Linked DNA regions of Homo sapiens: region 1 is linked to region 2. Evidence: fine-mapped expression QTL. Tissue or cell type: whole blood. Region 2 holds a variant in brackets; the other region holds the start of a gene. Each region is shown on its reference strand, or each on the opposite one.

The links. PIP is the estimated chance that this variant, and not a neighbour inherited with it, causes the effect. A credible set is the group of variants that fine-mapping cannot tell apart.
Region 1: LDHD starts here. The variant in region 2 is the best candidate, but not a certain one, in a credible set for the expression of LDHD in whole blood (TOPMed, PIP 0.53).

What each region holds. Positions count from the first base shown.
Region 1 is chr16:75,112,902-75,128,931 of GRCh38, reverse strand. LDHD (lactate dehydrogenase D) reads left to right here and starts at 12,152. Exons shown (of 11, transcript NM_194436.3): 1 at 12,152-12,283; 2 at 13,272-13,384; 3 at 13,593-13,734; 4 at 13,964-14,105; 5 at 14,247-14,406; 6 at 14,767-14,966; 7 at 15,062-15,190; 8 at 15,270-15,397; 9 at 16,008-16,030. The coding sequence starts at 12,212. It also overlaps a transcript of ZFP1 not described here. RefSeq lists an enhancer at 12,627-12,921.
Region 2 is chr3:101,359,135-101,375,164 of GRCh38, reverse strand. SENP7 (SUMO specific peptidase 7) reads left to right here. Exons shown (of 24, transcript NM_020654.5): 7 at 3,039-3,157; 8 at 7,154-7,335; 9 at 8,396-8,735; 10 at 10,174-10,331; 11 at 13,304-13,450. Among named protein-coding and RNA genes, the nearest start is that of IMPG2, 47 kb to the right of the region's middle. The variant A/G (reference allele first, on the strand shown) is at 9,405.

The sequences.
Region 1 (16,030 bases), not on the chromosome of region 2:
GTAATCCCAGCTACTTGGGAGGCTGAGGCAGGAGAATAGCTTGAACCCCGGAGGCGGAGGTTGCAATGAGCCAAGATTGTGCCATTGCACTCCAGCCTGGGCAACACAAAGAGCAAAACTCTGTCTCAAAAATAAACAAACAACAAAAAAAGTGGCTTATGTATATAAATATAAATAGGTTGCTGTTATTTTCTTCTGAAGTTTAAGTTGTCCAGCTTCAGTTCACAGGGCTTTATGAAAACACAGCTTAGTTTTCAGTGACTCCAGATTAGGCAAAATGGGGAAAAAAAGAAGGAAAAATTTGAAAACATTATTTTGAAGACACGTTGCCAAGAAAAATTAGAATTTGGTTCAAACTGTAGATAATAATAAGAATTGAAAAATATTAGACAAGACTAGAATCTAACAATGAGTGTTACTATAGTTTTGGAAACATAATTTTCCTCTCTCTAGTTTCCTATTTTTACTAAAGACAAATCATGGTAGGACTGGTTTGCTTTATTGTACTTGGCCTAATTATTTGTATACACTACAGCAAAAATAATTAATGTTTACACAGGCTTTTAAACTGGTTTTGATGGAACGTTGTCCCAGAGAAGGAATCTCAGATAAGACTTTTTTTAAAGCCGAGCCCAGCCATGAATTTGTACCATCAAATACTGATGAGTTGGGTAAATTCTTCTCCTCTTGAGGTTCCAAGATAAACGTGGGGCTCCTGGGCCCCACAGTGACATTCTTTACTTACCACAGGTCAGGAACCCTTTACAGGGACTGTGTAGACAAAGGTATGAGGCCAGTTTTTCAAGGGGCTTTTATTGGCTCCATAAGTGAAGTTTGATTCCTTAAAGGAAAGCACACCGTTCTGGTCAAAGTCTTGGTAAAAATAACTAGTTTCTCCAATGGTGTCCTGTTACAAATGAAAACAGATTCTTTTTGCACTTATGCAAATAACTGTATTGTCATAAGTTAGGAATACTCACAAATAGTTTCCAAAATCTGTAGAAATCAGGTAGAGAGAAACAAATATGCTCTGAATTTTGTTCTTGAGTATACTTAACTCAATTGTTAAAAGTTGTAAATAGCTTAAAAGTTTTCTTGACTCTGAAAAGCAAAACAAAGATCAGCAATGTTTTAAGCAAAAAGTTAAAAAGATTACTTCAGACTTCTATTAGTTTAGTCCATGCAGTTAATTCCTGTTCTGCTTGATATTCATGAACATTTCAGCCCTCCCTGAATCCTGAAAGTTTTTCCTTTATGCTGATGTCACAATCTCCAAAGTTATCAGAAACCTGCATTCAAGAGCACCTGTTAGGCCAGACACAGTGACTCATGCCTATAATTTCAGCACTTTGGGAGGCTGAGGCCAGCGGATCTCTTGAGGCCAGGAGTTCAAGACCAGCCTGGCCAACATGGCGAAACCCCATCTCTACTAAACATACAAAAATTAGCCAGGCGTGGTGGTACATGCCTGCAGTCCCAGCTACTTGGGAGACTGATCTCCTCATGCTTCCCTCTTCATGCTCATGCTTTTTTTCTGAGACAGAGTCTTGCTCTGTCGCCCAGGCCGGAGTTAAGAATCACTTGAGCCCAGGAGGCAGAGGTTGCAGTGAGCTGAGATCATGCCACTGCACTCCAGCCTGAGCAACAGAGGGAGACTCTTTCCCTGCCCAAAAAAAGAGCACCTGTTAGAGTTTTAGAGTTTTACAGCTGATTATAAAACTACCTTTTATAAAATCAGTTTTATAGCTGATTGTAAAACCAAAGAGGACCAAAACAAGACGATTATCCGTGAATGACAAAAAGTTTTAGAGCAGCCATAGTCAAAGATACAATTGGCAAGGAAATTTGTTACTTCTGCAGCACACAATAATTTAACATAACAATTATGGTTATTACTGATAATGTACATTAAGTCAGATCAGAATTATAGGAGTTTCTCATAATTTTGGGACACATACCAATAACATATTTATAGGAATACAGCCCAAAGAAAACCAAACACCATTTTATATTTGACAATGCTTCCTGTATAATTTTTAGACCAAATAAGCCAAATATGTCATTTTTGGATTTTAGAGAACCTATTAATAACATTTTAAAAGACTAGTTAGGTCAGAAAAAAACATAATTTATAATTTTATCTTGGAAAGTTTGTCAAATATCAAAGGTATAAAACACTTGATATTACAAAATAGGATTACAAGTCATTGCAAAATAATTCATTTAACTGGCTGGGCGTGCTGGCTCATGCCTGTAACCCCAGCATTTAAGGAGGCCAAGGTGGGTGGATCACCTGAGGTCAGGATTTTGAGACCAGCAGGCCAACATGGTGAAACCCCATCTCTACTAAAAATACAAAAATTAGCCTGGTGTAGTGGCGCATGCCTGTAATCCTAGCCACCCAGGAGGCTGAGGCAGGAGAATCACTTGAACCTGGGAGGCAGAGGTTGTAGTAAGCCAAGATTGCACAATTGCACTCCAGCCTGGGTGACAGAACAAGACTCTGTCGAGGCGGGTGGACTTTGCAAGGCTGAGGTGGGCAGATCATGAGGTCAAGAGATTGAGGTCATCCTGGCCAACATGGTGAAAACCTGTCTCTACTAAAAATAAAAAAATTACCTGGGCATGGTGATGCACGCCTGTAGTCCCAGCTACTTGGGAGGCTGAGGCAGGAGAATCGCTTGAACCTGGGAGGCGGGGGTTGCAGTGAACCGAGATCGTGCCACTGCACTCCAGCCTGGCGACACAGCAAGACTCTGTCTCACAAAAGTAAATAAATAAATTAGTTAATTAATTAAAAGAAGAATTCATTTAACCAAAGTGATAACTCAAGGATTTAAAAAATACAGTGAAAACCTTCATTCTTTTTTTTTTTTTTTTTTGAGATGGAGTTTTGCTCTGTTGCCCAGGCTGGAGTTCAGGGGGTTGATCTCAGCTCACTGCTCACTGCAACCTCTGCCTCCCAGATTCAAGCGATTCTCCTTGCCTCAGCCTCCTGAGTAACTGGGATTACAGGCACCTGCCATCATGCCTGGCTAATTTTTGTATTTTGGTAGAGATGGGGTTTCACCATGTTAGCCAGGCTGGTCCTGAACTCCTAACTTCAGGTGATCTGCCCTCCTCGGCCTGCCAAAGTGCTGGGCTTACAGTCATGAGCCACCGCACCCGGCCTGAAAACCTTCATTCTTTAAGAGAAGAGATTTAAATGATAAGCCCTAGTAAAAACAACATGAAGCCAATTAAATTTGTTTTCCAAAATTTTATAAACAATTTATAAAATTTTCATCTTGATCATAAAATACAACTTCCAGCTGGGCACGGTGGCTCAGGCCTGTAATCCCAGCACTTTGGAAGGCCCAGGTGGGTGATCACTTGAGGTCAGGTGTTCAAGACCAGTCTGACAAACATGGTGAAACCCTGTCTCTACTAAAAAAATACAAAATTAGCCAGGTGTGGTGGTGCATGCCTGTAATCCTAGTTACCTGGGTGGGTGAGGCAGGAGAAATCTCTTGAACCTAGGAGGTGGAGTCTGCAGTGAGCTGAGATTGTGCCATTGCACACCAGCCTGGGCGACAAGAGCCAAACTCCGTCACAAAACAACAAACAAACAAACAAAAGTACATACAGGCAGATAGAAGGATGTGATAATTTTAATTAAAAAAAAATTTTTTTCGAGATAGAGTCTTGCTCTGTTGTCCCAGCTGGAGTGCAGTGGCATGACCTCAGCTCACTGTAACCACTGCTTCCTAGGTGCAAGCAATTCTCCTGCCTCAGCCTCCCAAATAGCTGGGATTACAGGTGCGTGCCACCATGCCTGGCTAATTTTTGTATTTTTAGTACAGATGGGGTTTCACCATGTTGGCCAGGCTGGTCTCAAACTCCTGACCTTTGATCCACCCACCTCGGCCTCCCAAAGTGTTGGGATTCCAGACCTTAGCCAGTGAGCCCAGCCCATTCCTCTTTCTTAAACTACCAGCCATTTTACTTTAGTACTAAATTTATCATACAAAATTCTTTCTCATATGAAATTATTTCTCTTTAAGCTTTCTTACCAAAAAAAAAAAAAAACCTCTTTATTTTTATAACTTTTTTTTACATCTCTTTTATTCCCTGGTTCCTTTTACCTTGCTTTTTTTTTTTTTTTTGAGATGGAGTCTTGCTCTGTTGCCCAGGCTGGAGTGCAGTGGCACCATCTCAGCTCGCCGCAAGCTCCGCCTCCCAGGTTCATGCCATTCTCCTGCCTCAGCCTCCCAAGTAGATGGGACTACAGGCGCCTGCCGCCACGTCCAGCTAATTTTGTTTTTGTATTTTTAGTAGAGATGGGGTTTCACCGTGTTAGCCAGGATGGTCTCGATCTCCTGACCTCATGATCCACCCGCCTCAGCCTCCCAAAGTGCTGGGATTACAGGCGTGAGCCACCATGCCCGGCCCCTTTTACCTTGTTTTATACATGACCTTTAAATTAGCTTTGAAGCCGGGCGTGGTGGCTCACGCCTGTAATCCCAGCACTTTAAGAGGCTGAGGAGGGCAGATCACCTGAGGTCAGGAGTCCAAGACCAGCCTGGCTAACATGGCAAAACCCTGTCTCTACTAAAAAATATCAGAATTAGCCAGGAGTGGTGGTGGGTGCCTGTAATCCCAGCTACTTGGGAGGCTGAGGCAGGAGAATCGCTTGAACCTGGAAGGCAGAGGTTGCAGTGAGCTTTGTACCACTGCACTCCAGCCTGGGCAACAGAGCAAGACTCTTGTCTCAAAAAAAAAAAACTTTCAATTAGACAAAAATTGTTCACCTTTTTCAAAAGGACACACTTATTTTTTATTTGTATTTTACTTTTTTTGAGATGGAGTCTCACTTTGTCACCCAGGCTGGAGTGCAGAGGCGCAATCTTGGCTTACTGCAACCTCTGCTTCCTGGGTTCAAGTGATTCTCCTCCCTCTGCCTCCCGAGTAGTTGGGACTACAGGTGCGTGCTATCAGGCCCAGCTAATTTTTTTTTGTATTTTTAGTAGAGACAGGGTTTCACCGTGTCGGCCAGAATGGTCTTGATTTCCTGACCTTGTGATGCATCCTCCTTGGCCTCCTAAAGTGCTGGGATTACAGGTGTGAGCCACCACACCTGGCTGGGACACAACTTTTTTTAAGAAAGAATGTTTTTGGCCTGTGTGGTGGCTCACACCTGTAATCCCAGCACTTTGGGAGGCTGAGGTGGACAGATTGCCTGAGCTCAGGAGTTCGAGACCAGCCTGGGCAACATAGTGAAACTCTGTCTCTACTAAAATACAAAAAATTAGCCAGACATGGTGGCATGCATCTGTAGTCCCAGCTACTTGGGAGGCTGAGGCAGGAGAATTGCTTGAACCCTGCACCACTGCACTCCAGCCTGGGTGACAGAGGAAGACTCTTTCTCCAAAAAAAAAGAATGTTTTCCTACATATATATATATATATATATATATATATATATATATATATATATACATATACACACACACACACACACACATTCTTATATATATATTTGTAGGAAAACATTCCACAAATATATATACACATATATATATATATACACATATATATATTTTAGACAGAGTCTCTGTGTCGCCCAGGCTGGAGTGCAGTGGCATGATCTTGGTTCACTGCAACCTCCACCTCCTGGGTTCAAGTGATTCTCCTGCCTCAGCCTCCTGAGTAGCTGGGACTACAGGCATGCACCACTGTGCCCAGCTAATTTTTGCATTTTTAATAGAGATGAGGTTTCACCATGTTGGCCAGGCTGGTCTCAAACTTCTGACCTCACGTGATCCACTCGCCTTGTCCTCCCCAAGTGCTGGGATTACAGGTGTGAGCCACTGCACTTGGCCCAAATATATTTTTATTGGAAAATACCCAAATAATAAAATCTCTATTATTTAACTTTAGATTCAAAATTATGAGTTTGTCTATATTTATCCTATAATATTTACTTATTTTATTTTAATTACTTACCTAGATTATTTATAAAAACTGTGCTTGTCATTATTTAAAATTATGGAACTGCCATTGCAAAATTATCACTGAGACAGTGAAAAAGATTGCACCTAAGTGACTCCATCTTGCTTCTAACCTCCAAGCTGTTCTTGTTCATTCCTGGGCATAGGCCAAACTAACTTTGGGAGGAACTTATAATTTAGCTTTGAAACAAAGATGATAACAGTGCTTTTCCAAAACAAACACTATTGCCTATAGACCGGACTGCCTAAAGCCACAAGATGAGAAGTTATGGTAATCTTACTAAATTTAAGATGTAGCTATTTTTATTAAACCAATATTAATGTCTTATTTATTAAAGATTTGTTAAATATAGTGAACTCCAAGTTTCTCTTCAAAGAATCAGTATGTCAGTATGTTCAGCTCTCTTATTCTTTGATTCTCCATTTTAAAGTTTAGCTTCCTGGTTCTCTTTGCCCCCTAGCTTCTAGTTTCAGTAAACAACTTTCCCGCCAGTCCTAATCAGTAGTTCACAGCTGTTCCCCTGGTCACCTGCTTTGACCTGAGTCACTCTTGGTCACCTACTCTGTCCTGATTCATCCTGAGCCAACTGTTCTGTAACCGCCCTTACTGCTAAACTACTCACCCTGCCACTCCGGCTGGTACTCCTGCTCTTTTTAAAATAGTCAATTGGAATTAGCTTAGACTGTGCGGTCCAACCCTATCCAATAGGGGAACGACACAGCAGTAGGGGCTACCTGCATGAGGAATAAGAACTCCTGCCCCTCCCCTGTCCAAGTGTGCTCTCACCATTGTTTCATCTGCGAGGGGCACCTTTTCTGCAGAAAGTGAAAATTGCCTTGCTGAGAAAACTAAATTTATGTTTGAGTGCTATTTCTTTGTGGCACTGGGGAATAAGCATTTTGCATTTCTAACAAGCTTACACAAGCAAAGATCATTCTGTTTTGGGCTGGGTATACAGTTTTGTAACCCCTATGAGAAATTTTGACACCTTATAGTATTTGGCAGGGATAAGTATGAAACTGCTGGATTAATATGCAAACAAAAATGTATGCTGGCAATTCTTCAGACATTTCTAATATTACTTTACCAGTAATTTTAAGGCTAGCTTATTTATTAATAATTTTACTGAGTTACATAAACTTGAAAAAATATTTGACGAGTCTTTTTTCCTGATAAAGCATTTCATTCGAGCACTTTTATTTTCTTAAGCCAGTTAATTAGAGCTCTTTTAAGCATTTTCAGTAGTGAAGCATTGTGTACACAACACATAAATACATAGACGTATTAGGCATGCTGATAGAAGTACATCTTATGGATACACTCAGATTATTGATAACCTGCTTCACAACCCTAGGCAGTTGTCAGCTAACTAGCCTTATGTTTGCATATTAAAGGAAACAACTCAGGTGAAAATCAAATAGCAAAATTTACATCATAAGGTACAGAGAGAAAAAGTCTGATGGTGCCAGAGGGAGATGAAAGATGAATGCCAAATCAAACATAAAATTAAAGAAATTTGCCGGGTGTGGTGGTTCATTCCTGTAATCCCAACACTTTGGGGGGCCGAGGTGGGCGGATCACAAGGTCAGGAGATCGAAACCATCCTGGCTAACACGGCGAAACCCCGTCTCTATTAAAAATACAAAAAATTAGCTGGGCGTGGTGGTGGGCGCCTGTAGTCCCAGTTATGTCTGTACTCTCTGGAGTACAGAGATCACCCCACTGTACTCCAACCTGGGTGACAGCGAGACTCTGTCTCAAAAAAAAAAAAACAAAAAAGAAATTTATCATAGGATTGTATAAGGAGACTAGTTTTATTTAGATAAAGGGACTACCTTTTAAGTGGATCTCTGAGCTCTGGGCAGAGCCCACACTGAATCCTGGGTCTCCAAGAAGGGACACTTATTATGAGGTTAGAACACGTGATGCTTTTACAGTGCACTTTTTAAAAAACTTCTTTTAAACAAAGACATTTCTAAGTGTCTAAACCATAGTCTTCCTTAAAAACCCAAGGGTAGGCTGGGTGCAGTGGCTTATGCCTGTAATCCCAGCACTTTGGGAGGCTGAGGCGGGCGGATCATGAGGTCAGGAGATCGAGACCATCCTGGCTAACACGGTGAAACCCGTCTCTACTAAAAATACAAAACAAACAAACAAACAAACAAACAAACAAAAAACAAGCTGGGCATGGTGGCGCTTGTAGTCCCAGCTACTTGGGAGGCTGAGGCAGGAGAATGGCGTGAACCCGGGAGGCGGAGCTTGCAGTGAGCCGAGATTGCGCCACTGCACTCCAGCCTGGGCGACAGAGTGAAACTCAGACTCAAAACAAACAAACAAACAATACAAAAAACAAAAAACAAAAAAACCCAAGGGTAACCTCTGTTGCAATAACTATTTTAGTCAAAAAAAAAAACAAAAAAAAACCCAAAAAAAAACCACAAACAGGTAACAACAATACAAAAGTAAGCAGTTGAAGAGACGAGACGAACTTGCCTGTTTACACTCTGGGGATTGCATAAGAAAAAACAGGTTTCTCCCTTAAAGGGAGCCTGGTGCCTTCTCTGTTCTCTTTAAGGAACCCCAGCTATTATAAACTATTTTAGGTCCCTCATGCAGCAGAGGGTGCAAGAGAAAGGAGATACAGCCGAAGTAAATGAAGAAAACAGAATTCAGTCAACTGAGAAGAAAAAAACTTTCGCTCAAAAAAAGACAAGATTCTTGGAGAAAAACAAAAACAAAAACATGAAGTCCTTTTAAATACAAACACACACACGCACATGCGCACACACACACACACCACACATACACATGCACATCTTCGATGTTAGCTTTTAATTAAGCTGACTTTTAATCATTGAGCTCCTTTAAAAAAATCTTTTAAAATCTCATTACCATATTTCAGCTAGGACAAATTGCTGCTATTTCAGAAGCACAGCCATTGCTCTTTCAGTTTGGCCTGGCTAGCAAAAAGGTGGCCTCGTTGTGTAACTAAAGCCACTTAGTAGTCAAAATAAAAAATCTTTCCTTTTTTTTTTCCTTTTGCTGGCTGTTTTTCACCCCCTATCACATCATCCTTTGTGTATGTGTGTGTGTGTGAATTTAGCCACTTCAGAGGCCTTGTTCCCCATAATTTGGGACTTCCTTTGTATTTGATCAAGTCAGATAGAGTTGATCAAACCCAATGGGAAAAAGACTGAAAGAACAACAAAAAGAGAAATGAACAACAACAAAACAGTTAAGCAAAACAAATGATCACACAATTTATATGATTACTAAGCTTTCTAGTGGTAAGGAGAAATTAAGACCAGCTGGTTGTAATCTTAACTTTAGCCAAAACAAACCCCAATTCAGTTACTTACCTAGGGATGGGTTTCAGGCTGAAGACTGCTCTCTACCATCCTAGAAGCAGGGAAAAACCCTCATCTTCCCTGTTGGTTGCGAGCTCAAACACCATAAAGGAGTTACCTGCCTTCCATCAACATGGAAGCAGGAAAAATTTGCCTTCCTTGTGTTAGAAGCAAGTAAAACTCCAAAAAAAAAAGAGGAGTTGTACAACAAAATGAACTTTAGATCTTGACCAGATTTTGAAAGATAAGGTATTCTCTGGAGGGTGTGCTTCCGGGCCTCAGCAAATTGTCCTATTGGTTTGAGCCATAAAGATAGCTCAAGCTGGTACCAAGCACTGATAGCTTTGTCAAAGGTCAGGGGCGCCTCCAGTCAGAATTCTTCTGTGGTTACCAAAATATGAACCCCCCAAATCTGAGAAAGGTCTCAGTTAATTTAGAAAGTTTATTTTGCCAATGATGATGGTGTGACACAGCCTCAGGAGATCCCAATGACATGTCCCCAAGGTGGTCAGAGCACAATTTAGTTTTATACATTTTGGGGAGACTTGAGACGTCACTCAACATACGTAAGATGAACATTGTTTGGGTCTGGAAAGACAGGGAGGGGGCTTCCCGGTCATAGGTAGATAAGAGACAAATGTTTGCATTCTTTTGAGTTTCTAATTATCCTCTCAAAAGGAGGCAATCAGATATGCATTTAGCTCAGTGATCAGAGGGGTGACTTTGAAAGAATGGGAGGCAGGTTTGCCTTAAGCAGTTCCCAGCTTGACTTTTCCCTTTAGCTTAGTAATTTTGGGGGCTCAAGATATTTCCCTTTCAGACCTCTTCAGTAGAATTCTTTCTTCTGATGAGGCAAGCATTGAGTTTTATGTAGACCTGTATGGATTTCCCACCACTCACATGAAGACCATGACCTGTGACACATTCCCTGGAGGTCCTGAGAACATGTACCCAAGGCAGTTGAGTTACAACTGGTTTTATACAGTTTAGGGAGGCATCAGACAGTAATCAATATAAGCAGGGTATGCATTGGTTCCTTCTGATTGAGGGAGGAGCTTACAGGTCATAGGTGAATTCAAAGACTTTTCTGATTGGCGCTGGGCACGGTGGCTCACACTTGTAATCCCAGCATTTTGGGGAGCCAAGGCGGGTGGATCACTTGAGGTCAGGAGTTCGAGACCAGCCTGGACCAACATGGTGAAACCCTGTCTCTATTAAAAATACAAAAATTAGCTGGGCATGGTGGCACTCCTGTAATCCCAGCTACTTGGGAGGCTGAGGCATGAGAACAGCTTGAACCCAGGAGATGGAGGTTGTAGTGAGCTGAGATCACGCCACTGCCTGAGCAACAGAGTGAGACTCCATCTCAAAAAAAAAAAAAAATTTCTGATTTTCAATTGGTTGAAAGAAGTTATTATCCAAAGACTTGGAATCTTGGTATACAACAACAAAATTTTTTTTAAATAAAAAATTTTAAAAAAGACAACCTGGAATCAATAGAAATAAGCATCTGGGTTAAGATAAGGAGTTGTGGAGACCAAGGTTCTTTTTTTTTGAGACAGAGTCTCGCTCTGTCGCCAGGCTGGAGTGCCGTGGTGCGATCTCAGCTCACTGCAACCTCCACCTCCTGGGTTCAAGCGATTCTCCTGCCTCAGCCTCCCAAGTAGCTGAGACTACAGGCGTGTACCACCATGCCCAGCTAATTTTTGTATTTTTAGTAGAAACGGGGTTTCACCATGTTGGCCAAGAGGGTCTCTATCTCTTGACCTCGTGATCCTCCCACTTTGGCCTCCCAAAGTGCTGGCATTACAGATGTGAGCCGCTGCACCCGGCCCAAGGTTCTTATTATGTAACATAGATGGTAAATGTCTAAGGCGTTAAAAGGTGCCAGACTCTTAGTTAAATCTCCCTTAGATCAGGATAAAACCTGGAAAGAGGCTGGACGCGGTGGCTCATGCCTGTAATCCCAGCACTTTGGGAGGCCAAGGCAGGTGGATCACGAGGTCAGGAGTTCAAGACCAGCCTGGCCAAGATGGTGAAACCCTGTCTCTACTAAAAATAGAAAAATTATCTGGGCACAGTGGCAGGCACCTGTAATCCCAGCTACTTGGGAGGCTGAGGCAGGAGAATCGCTTGAACCCAGTGGGTGGAGGTTGCAGCACGCTACTGCACTCCAGCCTGGGCCACAGAGTGACTCTGTCTCAAAACAAAACAAAACAAAACAAAAAACCTGGAAAGGGGAGGGGATTCTCTACAGATTCTAGATTTTCCCCACAAAAGACAGCTTTTTGGAGCTATTTAAAAAAAAAATCAGAGGAATATATTTTGGGGGTAAAATACATTGATTTCTTTCAGGGCCTGCTATCTGTCAGGTGATGCTAGAGTCAGGTTGGAATTTGGTATCTTATTGCTACAAAGAGTCTGTTTTGTGTCTTAAGATCAGAATGCCTTAAGGTCTCTGTTTTAATGTTAATGCTGGTCAGTTGTGTCTGAATTCTAAAGGAAGGAGGGGGATAATGAGGCTTGTCCTAAACCTCTTCCCATCACAGCCTGAATTAATTTTTCAGGTTTATTTTGGAATGCCCTGGGCTGAGAGGGAGGTCCATTCAGTCGGTTGGGAGGCTTAGAATTTTATTTTTGCCTTACAGTTTCCCAAAACGTCCAGTGAACCTCGCCTCTCCTTTAGAAGTGTCGTCCCTGGAGCCCACGAAAATGTCTGCAAGATCTGCAAGGGCCACCTTAAAGCCCGTGCCACCTTAAGCAGGCCCCACCCCTGGCCTAGCCAATGGGCTGACAGCAGCAGTAGCTGCTGCCACAGTAGCTGACTGGTCACCCTGCCACCCAGTGCTCACACCCTCTGGCCAGTGCCTGGCTATGGCCCGACTGCTCAGGTCTGCAACCTGGGAGCTGTTCCCCTGGAGGGGCTACTGCTCCCAGAAGGCAAAGGTACCGGGAGAGAAGAGAAGTCCTCTGGAGGGATGAGGTGGGGAGCGGGGAGCAGGGGGTTCTGATCCCAAGTTTCCTGGGCTCTGTGACGCCCCAGCACCAAGTGACCTGACCTTGGGCAAAAGGGCACTGGGCTTACCCTGTGGCAACTGTGGGTGGGTGTAGAGTGAGATCAGCTGAGTCCCCACTGCTACCATGAGTGGGGCTGGGGGAGTCAAATGGATGCCCCTGGAATAAAACACACCTGTGGAAGAAGGCCCTGAAGGAAAGGGCCTGGGTTCCAGGCCAGGCTCTGTCCTTAACTTGGCCTCCATTTCTCATCTGTAAAATGGGAAGAAACACATCCCCCGCCCCGCCGCGCCCCGCCCCCCACGAAGGGCCCAGAAGCCCCAGGCAACGTAGAGTGGGGAGGGGGCAGTGGAAGCTTTTCCTCCCCCTAATTCCCTTATCAAGCTCTGAGTTCCCTGTGGCTGGGGTGGTGCTTGGTTGGCCCTGGAGAAAGGAGGAAGTGAGGGATCTTTTCGGTTGCTCAGGCTGGGCTGGCTATTGAAGGAACCCTGCTGATAGCCTTTTTGGAGAGTGAATTCTGGTTTTTTATTTGGATGGCTGGGCGCTGTGGCTCACGCCTGTAACCCCAGCACTTTGGGAGGCCGAGGCAGGTGGATCGCTTGAGCCCAGGAGTTTGAAACCATCCTGGGCAACATAGTAAGACCCTGTTTTTATTAAAAAAGAAAACATTAAAAAAATTCTGGTGGCGTTTTTTTCTGAGGGGAAACTTTGACCCCCAATGGCTCTGTTTGGAAAAGAGGCATTTCTGGATAGTGGGTTTGTTTAAAGTGGGCCCACCTGGCAAGGATGTTGTCAGCGGGGCGGGCGCAGGGGAGGCTCACTCCAGCCTCCAGCCCCCAGCCCTCCCCCCGACACTGGGGCAGGGCTGTGGCCCCATGTGTCTTTCGGGGGACCCTGGCAGTGTGTTTCTTCCCTGCAGGGAGAGCTCTGCAGGGACTTCGTAGAGGCTCTGAAGGCCGTGGTGGGCGGCTCCCACGTGTCCACTGCCGCGGTGGTCCGAGAGCAGCACGGGCGCGATGAGTCGGTGCACAGGTATGGGAGGGTTCGCGGGCCCCTCCCCTGTCTTCTGGATTCAACCCCAGCTGAGAGAGAGGGTGCTGGGTTGCCTTCCTCCTCACTCATCTGTTTTGGGGTGCTCTGGCATGTTCTCTGCCCCTCGCTTGCTGTAGCCTCAGGCCCTGCAACACCTCGGGACCAGAGGGTGTCACGCCCCGCTAAATCGCTGAGGGTCTGGTTCTAGGTGCGAACCTCCTGATGCTGTGGTGTGGCCCCAGAACGTGGAGCAGGTCAGCCGGCTGGCAGCCCTGTGCTATCGCCAAGGTGTGCCCATCATCCCATTCGGCACCGGCACCGGGCTTGAGGGTGGCGTCTGTGCTGTGCAGGTACAGTGGGGCTCCCTCGCCCGGCCCGAGGATGGTCCCAGCACACCTTGGCACACCTGTGGCTGCCTCCCCCGCCACACACGGCACCTTGGGTCTGCTCCCGCCCGTGGGCTGCCTGCCTCTGGGGGTCTGGTCTGGCTGCTGGGGGGACACCCGCGGGGTGTGGTCCGGGGACGTGGCCAGGTCAGAGACCCAGGTCTGCAGTGGTCTTAGCACCTGCCCCAACCAGGGCGGCGTCTGCGTTAACCTGACGCATATGGACCGAATCCTGGAGCTGAACCAGGAGGACTTCTCTGTGGTGGTGGAGCCAGGTGTCACCCGCAAAGCCCTCAACGCCCACCTGCGGGACAGCGGCCTCTGGTTTCCCGTGGGTAGGACTCGCGAACCTTTCCTGGGACCCTGAGGGCACCGTGGGAGCAGGGCTGTGTCTGGGGTTCAGGGGACCTTCCTCCCCCAGCCCGAGGGAAAGGACCTCCGGTCCCTGAGGCTGCCTTCTGTACGCCGCCCTCCAGACCCAGGCGCGGACGCCTCTCTCTGTGGCATGGCGGCCACCGGGGCGTCGGGGACCAACGCGGTCCGCTACGGCACCATGCGGGACAACGTGCTCAACCTGGAGGTGGTGCTGCCCGACGGGCGGCTGCTGCACACGGCGGGCCGAGGCCGGCATTTCCGGTGAGCGCCCTCTGCGGGGGGCCCGGGCTCTGGCCCTGGGCACTGCTGGCGGGCTGCCCTGCAGAGACCGGGCTGTGAAAAGCACCTCCTGGCGGCCCCCTGGTTTGGCAGGCTAGGCTTCCTCAGGCTCTGAAGCCCTGTCAGCTGGGCCAAAGTGGATGGGACCAGGGTTTGCTCTCCCTGCCTGAGGCCGACTGGCTTTGTGGAGCAGAAAGCACTGGGCCAGGGAAACTGGGCCCGAGGGAGGCCAGCCCAGACCTCAGTGCCTGGGGTCGGTGTCTTGGGTTCCAGCTTCGGCTTCTGGCCAGAAATCCCTCATCACACAGCCTGGTACTCACCTTGTGTGTCCCTGGGACGTAGGAAGAGTGCAGCCGGCTACAACCTCACGGGGCTCTTCGTGGGCTCCGAGGGGACGCTGGGCCTCATCACAGCCACCACCCTGCGCCTGCACCCTGCCCCTGAGGCCACAGTGGCCGCCACGTGTGCGTTCCCCAGTGTCCAGGCTGCTGTGGACAGCACTGTACACATCCTCCAGGCTGCAGTGCCCGTAGCCCGCATTGGTGAGCTGAGGATGGGGGCAGTCAGGGTGGGCTCCCTGGAAGAGGCCCCCTGGGAAGGCCAGGCCTCACCTGGCCTGCCATCTCCCTGGATCCAGAGTTCCTGGATGAAGTCATGATGGATGCCTGCAACAGGTACAGCAAGCTGAATTGCTTAGTGGCGCCCACACTCTTCCTGGAGTTCCATGGCTCCCAGCAGGCACTGGAGGAGCAGCTGCAGCGCACAGGTATGCTGGGGTGGAGTGGGGCAGCAGGGTGGGCTGCCTCAGTGGCGGCCCGGTGTCAGCCCCCCTTCCCCAACTGCAGAGGAGATAGTCCAGCAGAACGGAGCCTCTGACTTCTCCTGGGCCAAGGAGGCCGAGGAGCGCAGCCGGCTTTGGACAGCACGGCACAATGCCTGGTACGCAGCCCTGGCCACGCGGCCAGGCTGCAAGGTGAGCTGGGGCTGGGGTACAGATGGGGCCCACAGCTCGGCCCACAAACCCTTTCCTCAACCCACCACTCTACTGCACAGAGCAGCAGGCTGAGCCTCAACAACGGGGCTGGGCCTGGCTGAGCAGGCGCTAGAAACAAGGGCTGCAGACCGCCCCACCCAGCTGTTCAGATACCGTCTACAGGGAAAGCACAGTTGTCTGCTAAGCCCTCAAAAGCCCTTCCTGTGAGCCAGGTCATGGGAACGGTGCGGTGCTCTTGGGAGCTGTACATGGAAGGAAGGCTTCCTGGAGGAAGAGATGATAGAGAGGGGGATGTTAGCCTAACCTGGGGAAGGGAAGTCTGGGCTCCAGGCAGCTATGCAAAGGCTCAGCAGCCTGGGGCTTGGGGGTGGGAGCCACAGGGGAGGTGTGGCAAGCACACCTGGGCCATTGGTCTCCTGTGTTGTGTCGGGGGGAGGTGAGGGCTGAGGCCTAGAGAAGAGCAGGATTATTTCCTTGTGTGAGGCCAAGAGCTGAAGCCCAGTGCCCTCCGACCCATCCTCAGCCTTGACCACGGTGACCCCGTACACCCAATCAGGCAGGGGTAACTCATAGGCTTCCCTCTGACCAGGGCTACTCCACGGATGTGTGTGT
Region 2 (16,030 bases):
AATGTACAGAGGTTCCAATTTTTCTACATTTTTGCCAATGTTTAACTTTTTTTAATGAAAAAAAAATTTTTTTTTAAATTACTCTGTCCTAATCTGTGTGAAATGGTATATTGTTGTTTGGGCTTGCATTTCCTTAGTGATTAGTGACGTTGAACATCTTTTCATGCTAATTGGCCATTTGTATGTCTTTGGAGAAACATCTCTTCAAATACTTTGCCCATTTTTTAATTGTTATTTATTTTTTGTTGTTGAGCTGTAGGAGGTCTTTATTATTATCAGTATTAATCCTTTAATATATATGTGGGTGGGAGATATTTTCTCCCATTCTGTGGGTTGTCTTTTCACTAGTGTCCTTTGATAAACAAAAATTTTTGATTTTTTTTTTTTTTTTTTGAGACAGAGCCTCATTCTATTGCCCAGGCTGGAGTGCAGTGGCACAATTGTAGCTGCCACCTTGAACTCCTGGGATCAAGTGATTCTCCCCTCAGCTTCCTGAGTAGCTAAGACTACAGGGGCATACCATCATGCCCAGCTAATTATTAAATTTTGTGTGTGTGTGTGTGTGGGTGGGGTGAAACCCCATAATGAATTATGTTCCCCAGGCTGTTCTTGAACTCCTGGCCTCAAGCAATCCTCACTCCTCAGCCTCTCGAGTAGCTGGGATTACAGGCGTCAACTACCATGCCCAGCCATAAGTTTTCAATTTTAATGAACTCCAATTTATCTTTGTTGTTGACTGTGTTTTTGTTGTTATATCAAAGAAATCACTGCCAAATCTAATGTCATAAAGATTTCCCCTATGCATTCTTCTAAGAGTTTTATAGTTTTCTGCCTTATATTTAGGTGTTTGATCCACTTTGAGTTAATTTTTGTAGATGGTGTTAGATAACTGTCCAACTTCTTCCTTTTGCATATGACTATCCTATGTTCACAGCACCCTTTATTGAAAAGACTGTCCCTTCCCTATTGAATGGTTTCAGCATCCTTGTCAAAAATCTTTTGAGCATATATTTGAAAGTTTGTTCCTGGGTTCTGTTTTCTATTTCTATGGTCGATATGTCTCTCTTTATTCTAGTACCACGCTATTTTAATACATTTTTATAATTTTAAAGTATATTTGCTTGGCTATTTAAAAAAATTCTTAGAATTTTGTTGCATTGGAAAATATTTATTTTGAGCTTTTATTACATTTACTTGTTAACTTGAATAATGTGAATATTTATATTTCTTGTTCAGGAACTTGGGTGTTTCCAGTCCATTCATTTCCTTTTCTTATAAGAGGATGGAAGCTAACAGTGTTTGAACATTGCTGTCCTTATCTTTAAACACGTGACTTTCCACCATGTACAGTTTAGAACCAGATTGTCATATTCTGCAAAAAACTGTTATTTGGATTGAGATTATATTACAGATGTGTTTGGCTTCACTGTTGTGCATTTGAATCATATGACATTACCTTTTGAAAATACTCATTTTTATTTTTGGTTTCATGCCAACTACTTAATGCTTAGCGTTTAGTCAAGAAAATCCTCTGTTATAAAGTCTTTTTTCTACAACCATATAACTTTTAATGTGATTTACATGTGAAATCTTATTTTGTTTTTCAGTGTTCATTGTGCTAGAAAAACAAGGACTATTACACTGTTTGCTTCTTATATCAGGGGAAACATAAGTACCTAAGCATCTTTTTAGATCGTCTTTTAGGTCACATTTTATTTTTGTTTATAGTGCCTGTAGTGATAATTCTTTCAGGGAGGACAAATTTTTTTTGACTTCTCTTTTGGTTTTCATTTTCAGTAAACAAAACTCTATGGTATAAATTTGCTTAGATGCCCTTATTCTTCAAGAATGATTCTTGAGGGTTGAGGAGTGGAATGATTTGACTCAGTCAGAACCTCTTTGCAAGTGAAATTGGCTCACCCTTACGATTTTGATTATTTTGGCCTTTTAATTTCCAATCTGAAAATAAAGAAAATTTTACCAAAGTAAATATGAAAATGAGCAGTGTAATAGCAGCAATAACCCTTTCTTTAACTATGACACTACACTGGTGATGTTTGGATACTGTAGCTTTTTTTAATTTATAAGTCATTTTTAGCCTTCCAAATAATTCTCTCAAAACAAGGAAGCATTACGTGTAATTGGTCTTTATAGTCCTTGTTTTTGACTTATACTAGTTGCCTTAGTTGTAAATAATTTATATATTTTAAAATTATGAAATACTTCAAATATGTACATAAGTATAGAGAATAATATGCCAATACATATCACTCAGATTTAACCAATATAATTCCTATTTTTTCAGATTTAAATTTGTTTTTAAAGAAGTATTATAGAAAGTTGAAAACTTATTTATTTTATATTCCCTGATTCTAATACTCTCCCTCTTTAGAGTTATCTACTACCCAAATAGGCTTGAATCCTTCCAGTCTAAGTTTTTATATTTTGTTTCATATGTATGCACTTATACATTATAGTATGTTTTATATTTCTAAATTTTCCTTAGTAGTAACATTGTGACTATCATTCCAAAATTTGTTATTTTACCAGTACCTTAGACTTTAAATTATTTTCTCTGTAGGTAAAATTTATTACCACATACTACTGAAAATTTGTTACCATACTTTTGGTATATGAACCACGCTTGAAATATATTAACATTCAGCTTTGGCTTATAATTGTTTGCCTATACATAGGTTTAATTATTGAGGTACTTGTGTCCTTGGAATTTTACTTTTTAAACCTAATTTAATACTTGTATAGTATTACTCTTTTGCTCATTTTGCATGTACACAATCCTCCAATGTTGATATCTCATTTTTTTTCCCCCTAAACACACATGGGGAATTTAAAGGTAGAAAAGGGAGGATAACTTATTTCTTAAATCTGAGTTCAATATTTTTTTTACTACCCAGATCTTATAGTCTGCCATGTGGGACTGTGTTTGTAATGTGTTGGATTTTTAAATACATGCTAGTTGGCTTCTAAATTCATTTGGGCTTTATTAGAATTGAGTATAATACAGTTCTCTTTTGCAGGGGCTCACAACGAAGTAAGACAGTAGATGACAATTCTGCAAAGCAGACTGCGCACAATAAAGAAAAACGAAGAAAGGATGATGGCATTTCTCTTTTAATATCTGATACTCAGCCTGAAGGTTTGTGAACCTTAGAAAACTGTTGGAATTTGAATTTTTTCTTATTGTATTAATAATAATTTTTGTTATAAATAAATTATTTTATTTTACTTTGAAAGGATATGTGAAAGTAAAGGGAGATTATTTGGCAACACAAATAAAATTGCTAAACCTACTCTTTATGTAGCGTAGTACTCATTTCTAGATTTATTTACTAATCCCAAAAGTTAAATTTTAATATATTTTTTTCTTCTTTGGGGAGACTTGGATATAGCTATGAAGTTATGTTCATTTAGCTGTTTCTAAGTGTTGTTTCCATGGATATTAATGTTACTGCTAACTGGGTTTTTATTATTAGCTAATCACTGTCTATTTGCCTACCATGAAATACATTCTCTATTCATTAGAATTTCTCTCAACTTCAGGAGGATGCCAAACAAGCCACTATTAGCAAATTTGAAGGTAAATACTTCCTAGACTTGTGAAAATTTTTTGTAGGCCTCCTTGCATATAGGATTTATGATTCGACTTCTTTTTCTTTTTTGCCTCTCTTTCAAGAATTAAAAATATTTTACTGATACTTGAAGAAAAACAATTTTACTACATTATTTATTTGTGAAACTAACACCTTTAGGGGTCTGTTGGATTATTGATAGCTTCAAATGTTGTTGAAGTCTCTTTGTTGCTTGCTTTCTTTCTTGCTTTTCTCTTTCTCTTTTTCTTTTTAAGACAGGGCCTCACTCTGTCACCCAGGCTGGTGTACAGTGGCATGATCACACATGATCACAGCCCACTTCAGCCTCTATCTACCTCCTGGGCTCAAGTGATCCTCCCACATCAGCCTCCCGAGTAGTTGAGACTATAGTCATGCACCACCACGCCTGGCTAATTTTTTGTATTTTGCAGAGACAAGGTCTTGCCGTGTTGCCCAGGCTGGTCTCAAACTCCTGGGCTCCAGTGATCTGCCTGCCTCGGCTTCCCAAAATGCTGGGATTATAGGCAAGAGCCACCGCGCTTGGCCACTGTTTTATTTTTGAGTGATTTCATAAGTTATTCACAATACAAAAAAATCTTTTGATGATGCTGTGCAAAAATTCATTACACTTCATTTGGAGCACAGCTATTTAAAGATTCTTTTTAGTAGCCTTTTTAATAGAAAAAAATTTAAAATGAAACTACAGTAATAACTTTTATTTGTACAAGAAACCAGCTGAAACTCTTATAAAGGCAGTCTTTGGAGAATGTGCTGTGACTTTGTTCAGACAAGCTTCCAATTAGTCACTGTCAGTGTATAATGAAAAACATTTATTTTCTTATAAACTGTACTTTTCTTAGAAGTAATTACAATCATCTCTGTGTATCTTTGTGTTCTGCATCTGTAGATTCAACCTAGCAAAGATGGAAAATATTTGAAAAAAACTTCAATAAAAATAATACAATCATAAAAAATACATATAACAACTACATAACATTTATGTTGTATTGGGTATTATAAGTAATCTAGAGATTATTTAAACTATACAGGAGAATGTATATAGGTTATATGCAAATACTATACCTTTAGGGGCTTATGGATCCATGGAGTTTGGTATCCTGGGTCCCTGGGACCAATCCCCTGAGGATACTGAGGGATGACTGTATTGATTACCAAGTAAAAATGTAAGTATTTGTACAAGTGGGCTCAGTTCAGGTACTATCAAGACAAAGATTCCTACTCTACCCAGGAAAGCAGTAGAATGTGAGGACTAACAGTCCTCACATTGACTTGAATAAAATACTTTCTGATTTGTACCCAGGAGTGTTACCTCAAGATCACAGTGGCATTTTAGACATGCATCAGGGAAGAGTACATGACAAAAGAAACATTTTTTAGTTTTTCAGTATCCCTGAAGGTACCACTACTGGTAGGGAAAGTGTTTCTAATACAATTAGCTATTGAATCTTTATTAAAGCAGTGTTTACTCTCCTACATCTGATACCAGTTATTTTTTAAAAACCTGTAAATTAATGGAAATTCTGAATGAAATCTTAGGTGTACCATTTTTTTCCATAGCACATTAAGTTTGCCTTGTGGAATTTGCTTTCACCAACATAATACCTTGGAAATACTTAGTATTCTTTTGTTTACAGGATTTTGTCACCTCTTTAGTTTTATATGCTAGTAATATTTGCAGGTTGAATTATATATTATGCAGGTGGAATTCTATTTTTACAATATTTCATTCTATATAATAAAGTTATTCCTTTTTCCATGAGACAGGCTTGACTGATATGCAAATAATAAATTGTTTAAAAGAAAACTCCTGTATAATCAAGTTTTTCTCAAGCCCCTTTCCTTTCATGAATCATTTTACTGTAGTATAATATTTATGTTTAGAAATTATAGTTTGATACATTGTGTGTAGAAATTGTATTAGACCACTTTTATAGTTTACAATATTACATATAAAATTTAATGTGCTATCCTAAATATTGTGTTGATGATTTGGGGGGAGTTTTATTTTCCTTAGGGAGTAAGGTGTTTTCTCTGGAAATTGAAAGGCGATTGACTATCTTGGAATTTTTACCCTCAATCCTGTTCCAGTGCCTTCCTTTAAGTAATGTCAAAGACAAATTATCATGAATATTAGTTATTAGGAATTGTTGAAGCTACAGTAAAAGCAAGAATAGTTTGAAGAGAAGATGTATGGTGTTGAAGAACGTTCCGTGAATGGAAAAGTCAGGCCAGTCAGATGAATTGAAAATTGTGAATTAAAGGCAACTGCTTTGTGACTTGCTGTGTATAAACTTTGAGTTGGTACTTGTATGACATAGATTCAGAAAGCAAAATAATTCAGGATAACTTTTAGTCAATTAGGTGGAAACTTTTGGAAGGTATTTTTGTACAGTACATATATTTGATAACAAATATTAAATATTTTTAGTAATGATTGGCATGAGTTTCAAAATGATGTCTTGTTGACTTAAAAAAGGAAGTACTTCTCTAGAATGATGGATTTATTGGAGACTTAAAATGACAGGGTCTTGATTATTGAAAAGAAGAAATAAACTGGCAAGTAAATTGGTAACCTTGTGAATGATCACATATTATAGCCAACTACAGAGCAAAGGTATTTTGTCTCCTTTTAAAGAGCAGTGATCAACACTCTTTCAAATTATAGTCCCTTTCCACTAAAAATATGTATTTATGTAAATTACATTTTAAAAGACTTAGTTTATAAAGTCACATTGAATTATCAAACTTTAAGACATGAATTTTCTGGATTTTAATAAGACCCCCCCTTTTTTATTATTATTATTATACTTTAAGTCCTAGGGTACGTGTGCACAACGTGCAGGTTAGTTACATATGTATACATGTGCCATGTTGGTGTGCTGCACCCATTAACTCATCTTTCACATTAGGTATATCTCCTAATGCTATCCCTCCCCCCTCCCCCCACCCCCCACCCTACAACAGGCCCAGTGTGTGATGTTCCCTTTCCTGCGTCCAAGTGTTCTCATTGTTCAGTTCCCACCTATGAGTGAGAACATGTGGTGTTTAGTTTTTTGTCCTTGTGATAGTTTGCTGAGAATGATGGTTTCCAGCTTCATCCATATCCCTACAAAGGACATGAACTCATCCTTTTTTATGGCTGTATAGTATTCCATGGTGTATATGGGCCACATTTTCTTAATCCCCTTTTTTTTTTGATAGTACAGCCAAATGCATTTATAGCAAATGGAAAAACAGTTTGGTGGCTTTGCTTTGGCTACTATGAAAAAGGATATTTCTTCTTTATATATTTTTCTCACCTCACAACTATTGTATAATGAACATTTACTTGGTATATACCAATTAAAATAGGGCATGCCTTTACCTTCATCCAGTGTCAGTATGAGAATTTAACAGTACATTTCTGTTTTAATGAGCTTTGGAAGTAGTATAGCAATCCTGATGATGTTACTTCGAGCTTTTCTAAAAGAGATTCTCTCTATACTTTTTTGTCCATATTTATGCTTCATTTGTTTTTTAAGACCTTAACAGTGGAAGTAGAGGTTGTGATCATCTCGAACAGGAAAGCAGAAACAAGGATGTTAAATATTCTGATTCAAAAGTGGAACTCACTCTGATTTCCAGGAAGACAAAGAGAAGGCTTAGAAATAATTTACCTGATTCTCAATATTGTACTTCTTTGGATAAGTCAACAGAACAGACAGTAAGTAGAGGTATTTAGATATTATAGGAAATAATTTCATGCTATGATAAAAACGAGTTGACTGTGGCCAAATAATGTTCCTCTAGCTTTCAGCTTTTATTATGAGATTTCTTTAGTTTTTGGTTCACTGTTAGCTTTATTATTAAAAAACAATTCTAAATGTAACTTTTCTTGGTGATACAGAGTTATTGGAACACATTTCAAATACTATGAATGATTAAAAAAGTTAAAATTGCTTATTTTCTTGTATCGCTCTTTCCTTAGTAGGTAGTTGTACATCCTTCAGACTTTTCTTTTTCTTTATTTCAGCCAAATACTATTCATACTGTCTAGTCATTTTTTTTTGCTTGCTCTGTAAAATTATTATTAGATTTATTTTATCAGTAGCAATTTACTTATCAAATTCTTTAAGCTTCTGTTTATCTAGAGTTTAGGGAATTTATTCTAAGTAAAGAATTATCATATTAAATACATACATTTTCTATTTTCAAAGACTTAGTATATAAGTAGCAATAAAACAGTAAGACAGCTTTTCAATTTCTTTGATCCATAAATCATTTCAGGACCTTGTAATGTTTTTGGGTTGTAATTATAAACATGATTCAGATTTATATAGTAAATGAGATATTGAAGGCAGTGGTTGATTTTCATAATTTTTAATGTTGTTATATTGTTGATTTTTAAATTTTTTTACCAAAGTAGTTTTACCAAAGTAGTCACATTGGCATTATTACTTTTGCAAAATAAAAATATGTAAATACATCTTCTCATTCTAAAGTTGACTTAGATCATGGGAGACCGTCTGACAAAGCATTTGTAATGATGGAAATCTCCCAATTTCACCCTTTAAAAAATTATCAGGCATCAGATTGGACAGACCAAATCCTGTATCTTTAAATTTGGGAGACATTGGCAAGTATAATGTAGTATAATTGTTTAGTTTTCTATCCATGTAGTTATAGAAGTGATATAATATTTTTACTTTTTTTTAGGAATTTAAAAATGGTTTAAGCAAGCCAAATTTGAAAAATGCTATTTTTTTCTATGTGTTTATGTTTAGAAAAAACAAGAAGATGACTCAACAATATCCACTGAGTTTGAAAAGCCAAGTGAAAACTATCATCAGGATCCAAAACTGCCTGAAGAAATTACAACTAAACCTACAAAAAGTGATTTTACTAAACTATCCTCACTTAACAGTCAGGAGTTGACTTTGAGTAATGCCACCAAAAGTGCCTCTGCCGGTTCAACCACTGAAACCGTTGAGAACTCTAATTCCATTGATATTGTGGGGATTTCTTCCCTGGTTGAGAAGGATGAGAATGAGTTGAATACCATAGAAAAGCCTATTCTAAGAGGACATAATGAAGGGAACCAATCACTGATCTCAGCTGAACCAAGTAAGTGACAGGAGGATTATAAAGTTACTTAATTTCCTCTGCTTTACTTAGTTATTTTTTTATTCTTCTTGAACAAATTTGGCTAAGGCCATAAGCTGTTTATGACATCATTGTGGAATATATTAACTTTAGGAAAAAAGGGCTTGGGGTTTGGGGTCTCCTTCATGAGTTTTAAAATATCGATTTAGGTAAACTAATGGAGGACTTGAAAACAGAAGTAATTTTTTTCTTAGATTAGTAAGTACACTGTCATCTCAATAGTTTTAAAATAGATTATTTAAAGACCATCATTACTGTCATTTGGTTGATGAATTATGCAGAGTTTAAGTGCTATCTGATTATTATCATTAATTTTCATTTAATCAGCTTCTGAGTAGTTGATGCCATCACATGGTACAAAGAAATTCCAAAGGTTTTAAAGGATCTCCAGTGAATACTCGCCCACATCTTCCCCTAGTTATTAATTTCCCATTCCTTGAAGCAATTCATGTAACAGGACTTAAAAGTACAATTTAGAGTGATGGCACAATACACTGTTAGAACTAGAATTTGTTACTAAGGCCTCCTCATGGCTTTATCCATTTTTAAACATCTTTATTCTTTAGAAGGTAAGGGTACAGGTAACTGCTGAATAATTGCGCTGATATAGAGTCATTGTCTGTAACTACT[A/G]TAAATCAGATAACAACTGATAGGCCTGTTTCTAAATTGAATAAATTTAGATGATTCAGTTTAACAGGATTATTAAAAATAAATTGCATTAATTAGAAAGTTCTTTTTTTTTTTTTTTTTTTTTTTGAGACAGAGTCTCTCTCTGTCGGCCAGGCTAGAGTGCAGTGGTGCGATCTTGGCTCACTGCAACCTCCCCCTCCTGGGCTCAAGTAATCTCCTTAATCAGCCTCCCAAGTAGCTGGGATTATAGGCATGTACCACCATGCCCGGCTAATTTTTGTATTTTTGCTAGAGACAGGGTTTCACCATGTTGGCCTGGCTGATCTTGAACTCCTGACCTCAGGGAATCTACCCACCTCAGCCTCCCAAAGTGCTGGGATTACAGGAGTGAGCCACTGCTCCCGGCCAAAAGTTCTTTTTTTGATATGTGATTGTTACACATTTAAAATACATTTTTCGTCTGGGTGCAGTGACCCACACCTATAATCCCAGCACTTTGGGAGGCCAAGGCAGGAGGATCACCTGAGGTCAGGAGTTTGAGACCAGCCTGGCGAACATGGTGAAACCCTGTCTCTACTAAAAATACAAAAATTAGCTGGGCATGGTGGCGCATGCCTGTAATTCCAGCTACTCGGGAGGCTGAGGTAGGAGAATTGCCTGAGCCCGGGAGGTGGAGGTTGCAGTGAGCCGAGATGGGGAGACTGTGTCTCAAAAAATAAATAAATAAATAAATAAATAAACAAAAATACATTTTTCTTTTCCGTTTTAGTTGTTGTTTCCAGTGATGAAGAAGGACCTGTTGAACATAAAAGTTCAGAAATTCTTAAGTTACAATCTAAGCAAGACCGTGAGACAACTAATGAAAATGAGAGTACTTCTGAATCAGCATTGTTAGAACTACCATTGATTACATGTGAATCTGTACAGGTAATTTATTTCTGTCTTCTCATAGATTAACAATGAAATGTACACTATTGGTTAATGACTGTTATTTGTTTTATCAAGCTGAATATTGTAATGAAAATTACAAATTTTCTTAGTTTGAATTTTCAGACAACTTTTATAGTAGTTTGAGTGAAATACGTAGTTGTCTTTATTTTGAAATGAAAAGATTATGCCATTTTCTTCTGGTGATTTATATTTTTCAGTCTGAATAGTCTATTACTTGAATATTTTTCTTTTTTTATGGCTTTCATTGGACATTTCACTAACATTTTGTAGAATTAAACACATTTTCTAGTATTTATATGTCTGGTCTTGGAGTATTATGGCTACTTGGAATTACTCCTTTTCCTCACATACTATGAAGGCAGTATGATATAGAGGAAAGAACATGGCTTTGGAGATATAGGTCAGAAACCTATCAAGTTTGGTAAGTCCTCTGCCTCTTCATTCTTATAGAAAATCATAAATGGAAGTGTGTTAGTTTAATATCAGTCGATTAATTCAGTCCTTTGAAGAGAGTAGGTCTAAAATAAGGTTCAAATCATTTATTATCAGTATTCTTTCTTTCTTTCTTTCTTTCTTTCTTTTTGAGACAAGGTCTTGCCCTGTCACCCAGGCTGGAGTGCAGTGACATGATCATGGCTCACTGCAGCCTCAACCTCTTGGGCTCAAGCATCCCTCTCATTCAGCCTCTCAGGTAGCTGGCACCATAGGCTCATGCCAGCAAGCCTGGCTAATGTTTTTAAAATATATACTATTTTTAGAGATGAGGGTCTCTCTTTGTTGTCCAGGCTGGTCTCTAACTACTGGGCTCAAGCAATCCTCCTACCTCCACCTCCCAAAGTGCTAGGATCACATGCATGAGCTACCGCTCCCAGCTGGTACTCTTTCTTATTATTAGTCTGTGATTATTCTATTTGTAAGAAAAGATCATTGACCACCAGTGCAGAATTATGGTAAACTTATCTTGTTTTGTTTTTGAATAATGTCAGAGGCTGTTATTTTGCAGAGTATGGTGAAGAGTTGGCCCGATCTATGAAAACAGTTTGGTCTGATTATTGTTTCATGGGTATTTTCTTTTGTATTTGGTATTCCACGTAGAAATCACCTCAGCAGCTTTGTTCTGAATTTTTGCAAAAATGTAACCATTTTTACCAGATGGGGTCAATATCCTACTTGATGGTTTAGTTGTATATATAATTAAAAGTGTCATTATTGATAATGAATTTAAACTTGTAGAAGAATTAGGTCTTGGCAGGGTATAAATTGACAATGTAGTATGAAATGATCATATTATAAGAAAATAACATATCTTGTGGAATTTACTACATTCATAATCACAACCAAGCAGCCAATACTGTGGAGATCTACAAAGACATATAAGGCAGAATGCCACATCTCTATGCTCTCTCTTGTTCCAGTTTTAAATGAATTATGAGAAATATGGATTGGTCATTTTTAGGAGCCAGCTAGTTTTTACAAAATGTGAAACCCAATGAGAAATTATTTCTATACCAACTTCTCATTTTATCACTAAAAAAGCCCACAGTTATTTGTCTGACTGATGTTGGAGCTACCTGATTTGATTTGATTGATTGATTCCCTTTTTTACTTAGGGAATAAGAAGATATTAATAGTATACTAAGCAATAAAACATGAGAATGACAAAGAAATTCAATTAAGCAGGTAAATGGCGTTATGAGCTGGGTTTAAAATAATGAGTATGATATATGTTTTAGATAAGGATTAGTCACATTTGCGAGAGGTAAGAGGGGAGTGAGTACATATGCATAATAACTGCTTTAGTAGTAATCTGTTTGGTAATGTGTGATGTTACGGATAATGTGCAGAGGTTAGGCACATTTGAAAAAGTTGAAAAAGTCATCTGAAAGTAGTGTAAATTTCAGAAGAAACAGTGGGAAAGAGTTGCTGCTGATATTGCCTGGTTTTCTATTATAATTTAAAAGCAAAGTTATATAGTCACTTGAGTGGAAGTGATATGATTTTTGAGGTTTTAGGCAAGTATAAGCCATTTCTGGTTGGTTGTCTTCAAACATAGAGTATACAATAAAGCATATAAATTTGAGATAACAGATGGTTCTTAGGTACTTACATTCCTTCACGGCATATTAAAAGTGCAGTAGCACACAGGCATAAAGATGGGAACAATAGACATTGGAAACTCCAAAAGTAGGGGGAGGGTTGAGGAGAGCCAGGGCCATAAAACTTCCTGTTGGGTATTATCTGGGTGACAGGTTCAATAGAAGCCCAACCCTCAGCATCACGCAATATTATCCTTGTAACAAATCTGCACATATGCCCCCTGAATCTAAAATAAAAAAATTTTAAAGTGCAGTAGCAAGAACATTATTTTGGTTAATGGAAACAATTTTATGTGGTTGAAGTGACACTGGACCTGGAGAGAGAAACGTGCATTTGAATCTTTGTTTTGCTTCTTACTAATCGCATGATTTTAGGCAGGTCGCTTAACCAATCTAAACATCTGTTAACTTTATTTATGAAATGGGAAACTGAAAAACCTGCCTATAGGGTGGTTGTGGGGATTAAAAGAGATAATATATTTAAAAACCTATTTTAAACAAAAGTACAATATATGTTTAAAACTTTCTTCTGTCAAGTTAAAAATGAATAAAACCTATTAGAGACTATTGAATGTGAAACCATGGCTTTGATACAGAGGAGTATATATTTCTGGAGCTTAGGCTGTGGAATTAATTTTGGATTCAGCTATTTAGTGTAATTTTCTCAAAGGTAAGTCATATATTTTTTCAGAAAAAAAATCTAGATAGCTATTTCTTCACAGTAAGAACAGTATAAAGTTCTTCAAAAATTCACTAATAGTAATTTAAAGAAGAATTTGATGGTGAAAGTCATTTTCAGCATTTATATAGTACTTAAGAATTATATGCATTTTATGATTTATTCCTTGTTAGATGTCATCTGAATTATGCCCATATAATCCTGTCATGGAGAACATTTCCAGTATTATGCCTAGTAATGAGATGGATCTACAACTGGATTTTATATTTACTTCTGTTTATATTGGTAAAATAAAAGGAGCTTCTAAAGGTTGTGTTACAGTAAGTATATTTTCTTTAATTTTCTTTTAGTTTGGATCTTGGACAAGGCATTTTAATTTTTTTCCTTTTTTTTCTTAGCACAAATAAGAATAGAATTAAGATTTATTTTATATGGGACACTTTGGATATGTTGAAAGTCATTATACCTAATTTGAAATGTGTCTTTCATTCTCCCCTCCTAAAATCCTACCTAATCTGACTACTCTAATGAAAATCATGTGTGAAAAAAAATCACATGTATTGATAATCTTTGGGTTCTAAAAGTTATTTGATGGTAAAGTAAAATTTTTTTCAAGGTATAGTTTGGAGCATAAAGAAGAAATCTTGTTTTACCAGTTTAAACGGTTGTAAACTGACTTCTCCAAATTTCTAAATTAAGGATATCCAGGAACTAATCCTACGCTGTTTTTCTAATTAAAAAAGAAAATACTCCTCCTCACCCACTGTATATGAAAGTGAGACTGGATTCTACTCGGTTCTCTATTTTTTTTTTTTGGGGGGGCGGACAGAGTCTCACTGTTTCACCCAGGCTGGAGTGCAGGGGCGCACTCCACTGATCTTGGCTCACTGCAACTTCTGCCTTCTGTATTCAAGCGATTCTTGTGCCTCAGCCTCCCGAGTAGCTGGGACTACAGGTGCGTGGCACCACACCTGGCTAATTTTTGTATTTTTTGGTAGAGATGGAGCTTCACCATGTTCGCCAAGCCGGTCTTGAACTCTTGGCCTCAAGTGATCCACCTGCCTCAGCCTCCCAAAGTGCTCGGATTACAGGTGTGAGCCACTGTGCCCAGCCAGTTCTCTATATTTTCTTACCATTTTGACCTTTTAAAATCCTAATCATCTTTTAAAGCTTCTCTGATATACTGACTCTTCCAGGAAACTTTCCCTAATCCCTCCTTTTTAGACGGAATTAACTTCTCCCTTTGCTATACACTTATAACACTTCATTTGACTTCTAAGATTTATTCTGTGTGTTTTATAATTACCTATATTCTTATATAAACTTCTCCATTAACCTTTTAAGCTGCTTATGGTGAAGAGCCACAGTTTTAGTTCCTTTTATAGCTTCCATAAATGTTTCCACTCTAAGCAGGCACTTAAATGTTTGTTGAAGTGACTGTGTCAGATTTAGTAACTCAGGCATTTTTTATAGCAGTTTCATTCATATTTCACTGTGTTAGGGATAAGGCAGAGAATATAAAAATGCTAAGATATGGTTTCTGCTTTCAGGGAGCTTTTAATCTAATGGAAGAGACAGACACATAAATATTTACTTTACATTATGGTAAAATATAAAACAGAAATATGTACAAGAAGGGTGCATATGGCAATGGATATCTATCAATGTCTGGAGGAATCAGGAAAGGCTTCACAGAGAAGACAGCACATGAATAAGACATGAAGTACCTGTTGTTTACTTGGTACCCATGCAGACAAAGACCTAATCCCAAATTCTGGGAACTGCAAATAATAGTAGTTTGTGATACAGTCACCATTGCTTCGAAAGCTCAAGAATGAATTAAAATTAACATTTTTTTGGCCACTGGTTTTAACTGATTTTGGCATGTCTGGGGTGATTTTACAATTCTTTTTCTTTAAGGAATTTTATTCATTTTTCAGGATTTTCTCCCCTATTTTACTTTATTATTTTAAATTCAGGTTTACCCAGTTATTTCTGTTGAGTTCTTTTTGATGGCAAAAAGTTGGATAACCTAAATATATGAGAGTGATGATTAGCCGGGGGAAGGAAAATCCAATATAAATATTAAACAATGGGATTTCTATTAATTAATATATTAATTATATTATTACACAGTCAGGTGGACATGTTATGCTCAAAAACCAAGATCAAGCAAAAAACCACAAACAAATTAGTAAAGGAACAATATTACAAACACATATAATCTTGCCTATTTAGAGACAACTGCCATTCACTGTATAGTATATATCGTTGCATATTCTTCATACATATATAGATACATTAAAACAAAGGGATATTACATAATATGTACTATTTTGTAACTTACCATAATTTCATTAATTTAATTCCTCTACTTATTTTGGGATATTTGGGTTGTCTTTAAAAATTTTTAATTGTTGGTCATTTCAAATTGTCCCAATATTTTACTATTACAAACAGTAGGGAACTGCAAATATTCAGTAAGCATTGTAAAGTGGTCCTAAAAATTAATTGTCAGAAGTCCTGGCCAGGGCCATCAGGCAAGAGAAAGAAAGAAAGTACATTCAAATTGGAGGAGAGGAAGTCAAACTATCCCTGTTTGCAGATGATATGATTCTATGTCTGGATTCTATATATATATTTATATATATTATATATAAATTTTCTAGATATAGGATCTCAGCCCAAAAGCTCTTTCAGCTGATAAACAACTTCAGCAAAGTTTTAGGACACAAAATCAGTGTACAAAAATCACTAGCATTAATGGCTTTTCCATATTCTTTATATGTGGACAATTTTTCTCAAGGGTAATAGCTTTCCTGTGAAATAAGGTGTAAGCACAGATTAAAAGTTTTGCCACATTCTTTATACTTGTAGGAGTTTTGCCAGTATGAATTATC